Regions from separate parts of the Homo sapiens genome. Here region 2 is reported to be linked to region 1. Evidence: microRNA targets listed by miRTarBase, many of them from high-throughput screens and not tested one by one. Region 1 holds a microRNA gene; the other region holds the end of a gene's coding sequence.

Evidence for each region. Region 1 holds the annotated microRNA hsa-miR-7856-5p (UUUUAAGGACACUGAGGGAUC, at 2,530-2,550, opposite strand). A microRNA usually pairs through its seed, bases 2 to 8, with sites in the 3' UTR of a target mRNA and lowers its output. Matches are read on the target gene's strand: a 7mer-m8 pairs with bases 2 to 8, a 7mer-A1 pairs with bases 2 to 7 and ends in A, and an 8mer does both.
Region 2: miRTarBase lists B3GNT7 as a target of hsa-miR-7856-5p. Seed matches in the 3' UTR shown: 7mer-A1 at 472-478.

What each region holds. Positions count from the first base shown.
Region 1 is chr1:86,355,136-86,359,480 of GRCh38, forward strand. It overlaps MIR7856 (microRNA 7856), which reads right to left and starts at 2,552; the gene lies at 2,497-2,552. It overlaps ODF2L (outer dense fiber of sperm tails 2 like), which reads right to left. Exons shown (of 17, transcript NM_001366781.1): 12 at 3,652-3,756; 13 at 1,309-1,467.
Region 2 is chr2:231,398,546-231,401,545 of GRCh38, reverse strand. B3GNT7 (UDP-GlcNAc:betaGal beta-1,3-N-acetylglucosaminyltransferase 7) reads right to left here. Exons shown (of 2, transcript NM_145236.3): 2 at 382-3,000. The coding sequence ends at 2,621. Among named protein-coding and RNA genes, the nearest start is that of B3GNT7, 4.3 kb to the right of the region's middle. RefSeq lists enhancers at 1-249, 1,891-2,436, 2,437-2,984.

The sequences.
Region 1 (4,345 bases):
AAGAAAGATATTTATTTTGTTAAGTTGAAATAGGAAAATTTTAAGCAGTATTAATCTCCTATTTTTGGATACCTAGGGTTTCTCTTATGGTTTTCTGTTTCACCTAAAAATACTGATTAATAATTGAGTATCTGTGAAGTCGAAACTGTAAATAAAATACATATTTTTTTGAGAAGCAAAGTGAACAAATCAACCAAAGACACACTCACCCATGCCAAGACAGAATATTCTTCCCACTGCTTCAAAATCTGCTCTAAATAATGTAAGAAGCTTTGATTCAAGGAAAAAATTTTTTTCTCATAATTTCAATTAGTAATTTAGGCTAATCTATGTCGTTTGACATTTTACTAGAAAAATCTCTTCTCAGGAATTTAAACTAAAATTTTGTCTGCATATTTTTATCTAACTTTTAAGTTCAGGGGTACAAATGCAGGTTTGTTACACAGGTCAGCTTGTGTCATGGGGGTTTGTTGTACAGATTATTTCATCAATCAAGTATTAAGCCTAGTACCTGTTAGTTATTTTTTCTGATCCTCTCCCTCTTCCCACTCTCCACCCTCTGAAAGGCCCCACTGTGTGTTGTTCTTCTCCATGTGTCCACGTGTTCTCATCATTTAGCTCCTACTTTTTAAGTGAGAAAATGCAGTATTTTTTTTTGCAAAATTAAAATCCAGATCATATTTGGAAGATAGACAGGGAATGCTTCCTAAAACTGCCTTGAAAGTAAAAGAAAAAAGACTTGTCACCATCTTTGGACTGCTCCTTTAAAAAAAATTTCATTAATTAAAAAAATATTGAGTGCTTACTATGTGCTAGGCATTGAGCTAGGAGAAGGCTATGTGGCTACTAACAGGATACACATGATCCATATTCTGATGGTATAAAAAGTAAAACAGGAAAAAGAAACAGACTGAAAAATATCCCAAAAAACTTGACGTACAATTCTAATTAAAATAAATTCAATTTTTGTAATGTAAGTTTCAATAATTTACCTTATCCTTACATCAAGGAACATATATGTAAGTATAACTTTGCTCCTTCTCTCATTCTATTACCATGTCTTCAAATGTCTATAGATTTGCATGAATAAACTAAAATAAGAATTTTAATTACCAATTTTTCACCATAAAATACTAAAAGAATAGCTTGCAAAACTGTATTATAGTATCTGCATGAAAATGATGTTTTACGAACTAAGTAGATGGGAATTTAAAAATCAAGCCCTGACATGAGTGCCCTCAACTGGTGAAATCATTCCAAAGCATTCTTTTAACGCATCTAGCAAAACTCAGAAGGACGGCTGGACACCTGGCCCTGAAGCTCCCTAATGGTGTGTTCCTGGTCTGCACACTTCCCCTTGCAGCACTGCAGACTCTCCTGACACTCGTGAAGCCTCCGTTCCGCCGCCGTCAAGGAATCGCAGACACGCTCTAACTCCTTCAGATGAGACTCCATCTGGCCTCTCATCTGAGTTGTGGCAGTAGGGAAATAAGTGCAAGATCACACATTCAGCATTAATATTTTTATTATCTTAAATACTAGATATGCTTATAACGTAAGTATTTTAGGTATAATGGCTTTAAATAAGAACACAACTGAATAAATATTAAACTCTGTTAAATAAGAATGTATAACTAAAAAGTGGGGTAGACTTTAGTTTTCAAAAAGTTTGTTGAGCACATAAATAGGGTAAATTAGCTGACAGGGTGGATGTTTAACTAATTTTTAAGAGCAAATTTTTAAAATCCTGACATTATATTCAAGCATAGATTATCACTAATAACCATTACTAATAAAGCCGTAATTGTCTACTGCCCAGCTATAGGTTCTAAAGGAATTGTCACTTTTAGTCATTCAATCTTATAACTCAGATACTTACTTAAATTAGAGCAGCTTGCTTCACTCATCTTAGCCAAAACTGATAGGGTTTACTGTATATTATTTAAAAATTGCTAGTATCATCAGTTCTCACTTGCCTTTAATTTGGCCATTAATGTTACTATCAACAAATCTCTCTAATTTCATCTACATTAATCTGTTTTGGCTACTGCAGTTCCTCGCTGCAGCACTTTCGTGGAGATGTGAAAAGCAGCAACCTTAAGAAATGTTTGCACTGCTAATTACAAAAAATAGCCAGACTCTTTCCCTGAGACAGGAACACCTAATAGTTTCTGTGTAGTATCTGGCATTCTTGATCAGGAAAGATAATGCAGTATTTTTTTTTTTTTGCAAAATTAAAATCCAGATTATATTTGGAAGACAGACAGGGAATGCTTCCTAAAACTGTCTTGAAAGTAAAAGAAAAAAGACTTGTCGCCATCCTTGGACTGCTCCTTTAAAAAAAATTTCATTAATTAAAAAAATATTGAGTGCTTACTACGTGCTAGGCATTGAGCTAGGAGAAGGCTATGTGGCTACTAACAGGATACACATGATCCATATTCTGATGGTATATAAAGTAAAACAGGAAAAAAAAAAAACAGACTGAAAAATGTCTGTTTTAAGGACACTGAGGGATCCAGAACAAAGGATCCCTCAGTGTCCTTAAAACATCTTAGAGGCCATGAGAAAACCAGGAGACTTAAAACAGTGAAGTAAGAAAAAGAAAAATTTCATTAAAAAAATAGTTGTCTTGTTAAATACTAGTTAGAAAACATTGTGACCTCACAGTATCTGAAAAAGACAGGCTCCAACCCTTTCCGTCATTTGAACAGGATTGTAAAATATGCTTTTATTTACAGTGCTGCCTAGCAGAAAAGGAGACATTTGCACTGGTATGTTTCATGAGAAAATGAGACCAAAAGACATGAAATGGTTTATTCGCTGGCCTGCTAAAAATAGGTGAAAAGTAATTCCATGAAAGCAGTAAGTTGTGCATTCAGTGAGCTATCTTTATGTCTGTATAACTGGAGGACGCTTGCTCTGGCTGACCTCTTCTTCACATTATTGCCTTGCTCTGACTTCTCAATCCTAAGATAGGGAGCAACCCAGAGAGAGTAACCTTATTAGATTCAGATGGAAGCGACCACTAACATCGCATGACCTCTGCTGCCAGGAGTCAGCATCCTACAACTTTCACTGCTTCTTTACCAAAACAACACAAAAAACCAAACAGAGATGCGGTTTCATTTAAAAATTTTAAAATATTCACAAAAACATCATAACTCGCCAACACTGGCCTTCCCTTCATTCTGTTGCAATAGAACAAATAAAAGGAAATGATCGTTTTTTAAAAGATATTATTTTTCTTCAAAAATGCATTTAGCAGATATTGGCTTTGCTTTTGTAGACGTAAAACATTTATAACCAGAAAAAAAGGGTGAGATTAAAAATGAGAGATACTTAGGTTTGTATACTTATGATTGATAACCATTTTTTGAGCTATTTAAAGTCTGCTCTTGCATCAGAAAAATTAAACATTTATGCTATTTTCCAAATATTAACAAAAAAGTGAAAAAACATTCACATAAACAAACAACATTTCCAGCCTGGAAGAAACATTATTTCCTTGGAAAACAAACTCTTACAGAGGCTAAGACTAGCCCTTTCCTAAGTATGAACTAGAGAAAATGACCAAAATGAATGAATTTGTGTACTATTCATAAAGTAAAAAATATATAAAATATTATTTATTTGAAATTCCAAACGTACCTTCTCTACATTTTTATTTTTGGTTTTTGTTATTTGGTTATTTTTATGTAGCAAATTTTCACATCTGCTTTTTACTATTTCAGCTGCTTCTTGCAACTTTTGTACCTGAAAATAAAGTATTAGAGAAACATATTATTTTTAGAATCATAACATGAGATAAAAATCTAAAATTTAAAATTTCATTTTAAACAAGTCATTATTTTCCTATCAATATCCTTGACTGGTTCATCTAATGTTATTACTTCTTTAAATATGGAATCACTCAGTGCTCTACTCTAACCCACAATCTTTGTCTGATTTACCTGTCTTCTCTCATCAATACTTCTAAACTCTCCACTTGAGCTTTGAAGACTACAAAGATTTTCATTTGCAGATCAATGTCACTTCAAAGAATCAGTCTCTGGTCCAAACTAGCTTCCATTTAAATTATTTTTCCCACCAAATCAAAATCTGCTAAAAAAAAAAAAAAAAATTCTAGGCCCTGCACCCAGAATATGGTCACTCAACCACAGTATTCCTGCTGAGGGATTAAACCCAAATAACCAGCTGGAAGACCCTGATGAATAACAAGTCCCACAGTCCACCACAACCTCCATTCCTACCTCAGACCTGGATGACTGAAATATTCTAACTGGATGTCTCAACTTAATTTTCCCATCTAATCCATCGAGATGCAGCCCCTTCCTACTTGCCC
Region 2 (3,000 bases), not on the chromosome of region 1:
CCGGTACAGGCACACCGTGGGTGATCAGGACATGCTTCCACTCAAATGGAGTGGGCAAGTTCCAAAGACCAGTCTTACCAAGTTTCAGATGTCCGGGCTCCAAGTGCCCGTTCCTTCAGCCACTGTGCTGATCCTCCACGGGGGCCTGCCACACACTGCTCTGACGAGGTGTTCCACCCGTCAAGAGCATTGCCTACCCGGGAGTGCTCTCAGGATCTGCGTAGCTCAAGCTGGCCACAGTCCCCCGCAGGGATGCTCCACAGGGCAGGCCTAAGCCGCCTAAGGGGCCGCCTCGACCGTCCGTCAATTACCTCGCTTCCCGGTCAGGGAACCAAGAAATGTAGCAGGATGAGTCCCAGACAAAACTCCTCAGACACCGGATTAAAGAAGGAAGAGGTTTTTATTCGGCCGGGAGCGTCGGCAGACTCGCGTCTTAAGAGCCGAGCTCCCCGAAAAAGAAATTCCTAGCCCTTTTAAGAGCTTACAACTCTAAGGGGTCCACGTGAAAGGGTCATAATAGATCAAGTAAGCGTGAGGAACGTGACTGGGGGCTACACACATCAGCTAATAGGACAAAAAGTTTTACGGTGCTTTCTCACACAATGTCTGGGATTTACAGATAACACCAGTCGTTTTGGTCAGGGGTTAATATTATTATCATTTTAACCACCAGGGCCAGGTGGTGGCGCCAAGGTCGTCTAGCTATTTATCTTACTTCTGTTTCTTTCCAGCTTTTTGCTTTCTCCCTTTTCTCCTGTCTTATAAACTAGGGAAAAGGGGAGGTTGGGGAGAAGCTGGGAAGGACAACAGGAGAAGTGGTGGTCTCATTCCATAGCAGTAGCGCTGTCCCCTTTTCCTTCCTGGGCATCTGAACCCCCTGGGATTCCCCTGAGCTGGGTGCAGGCACGGAGCTGCTGGCTGGCTTGCTCATACTGCTGTCTGAGTGACTCTTCTCCTGGGGGTAGCTCCCTCCCCACCCTGGAGGTCAGCAGCTTGGGCCAAGGTCCCTGGCACAGGGCCATAAGCTATTTCAGTGCTTTCAGGTTGCCTGGAAGGGATGTCAGGGAGCCCACCGGCCTCTGTACGGCCGACCTAATCTCACCCACTGAAACATTAGCCTCGGGGCCAACTCTGGCCTCACCCTTGGCAGGGACAGGAAGGCACTGGCTCACGCTAGAGCCACAGCTCGGCTGTCCACCAGGGCACAGTCAAGGGCTGGGTGCATTGCTAGCTCCCAGGTTTTTCTGTTGCCGTACTCCCATCCCCACTTTAATCCTAGCACTCAGCCCCGTCTAAATCCCTTCCAGAAGTCCTTGTGCACCCACCAGCCAAGAACAAGGAACAAGCTGTGTCTTCAGAAATCTCTGGCAACCTTGGCCCCAGACAGGCTCTCTGATGCAGCTGGGAACAGGAAGTTTCACACCAAAAAAAAAAAAAAAAAAAAAAAAAAGTCCCATTTTATTGAGAAAATAGTGTCAATCCCTCCATCTTTCCTAGGTGACTCCCGCTGAGGTAGGAGGTGGCAACCTTCTGCACCCACCCCCACAGCTGATCCATCCCTTCACCGGGGCAGATGCTGGTCTGCTAGGCCCTGGAGAAGCAGGGTGCGGTGGGGCAGGGCTCTGGAGGGGGCTGGGCTGTGAGGGGCCTGGGGGTGCTGAGGGCAGGCAGCTGGAATGAGGGGAGGGAAGGGAGGAGGGCCAGGGAGGACACCACCCCCTCCTGAAGCCTGGAGCCTTCTCCCTCCAAATTCTTCATAAATAAAACTTCACAGTAATAGAGGAATGTCCACTTCCAGGGCCAAACCGGCTGCTTTCCAGCCAGGGAGCCAGGCCTGGGGGTGTGGGGGCTGCGGGAGAGACTTGCCTGGGGTGGGGGTCAGCAGCTCTGGGACTTCGGGGGGCCAGGAGCGCTGCTCTTCTGCCCTGTGTCGGGGTGGGGTAGGGCTGCAGCCCCAGGGAGATTCTGAGGGGCGCTGAGGTAGTCAGAGCGGTCGCCCTTCCAGACCTTACAGGACACAGCCAGGAGTGGAGGCCCTGTGGCAGAGGCGGCCCGTCTCCAGGCAGGCCTGGGGCTGCGGAGAGCCGGCTGGGCCCTCTCTCCCAGGAGACCAGGGTGTGGACTGGGGGGTGCCTGTGAGCCCGCACAGGGTTGAGTTTCTCCTGCCAGGGCCGCCCGGCCTCTGGGGAGACTGAGGCATTTCACAGAAGACTCTTCCCTGTGAAGACGAGGGGCGGCCACAGACCCATCAGGCCAGGCCTAGCCCAGGTACCTGAGCACAGCGTTCCTCCAGAGGTCACCAGGACCTCCCACCACATCTGAGGGGGCCAGCAACGGACCCAGGTCAGGAGGGCTGCCAGGGCCTGGCGCCTCGCTCCTCAGAGAGGGCCTCCAGACTGGGCAGCTCCAACCGTTCCTGGGCCTCAGTTTCCTAGAATTATCCACACAGGGAGGTCCCTTTCTGGCTACCTGCACCCCACCACACCCAGTGGCACGTAGGCCTCAACCCTCCACCTCCCCTTGGGGACCAAAGGCTAGGCCTGGGCACTGTGGCTCCAGCCCCAATACCATGGGGGCTCAGGAGCAAGTGCCCTGGCCTGTCCTAGTAGCCCGGCTGGGGTCAGAGCACCTGGAGCTTGCGGGAGCAGGTGAGATTGCTGTGCACCAGCCCCCACATGGCGAGCAGCTCAGGGGGCAGCAGCTTGTGCACCACGAGCATGGCGCGGAAAAAGCACGGCTCCTTGTTCATGCGGCTGTTGCGGTTCCGGGAGATGCCGAAAGTCTTGAAGCCCTCGTGGGCCGTGGGCTGCACGCCCAGCACCTCCAGGCACATGCCCAGAAAGACGTCGTCGATCGGGTAGAGCTCCAGGGTGTCGCAGGCATGGTGCAGGCGCCGGGCCAGGCTGCCGGCCATGAGGAAGCCACCGCCGCCTGCATACGGCGGATAGCTGGCCTTGCCGTACAGGGCCCCCGGGATGTAGTATTTGTTGTCTTTCCTGC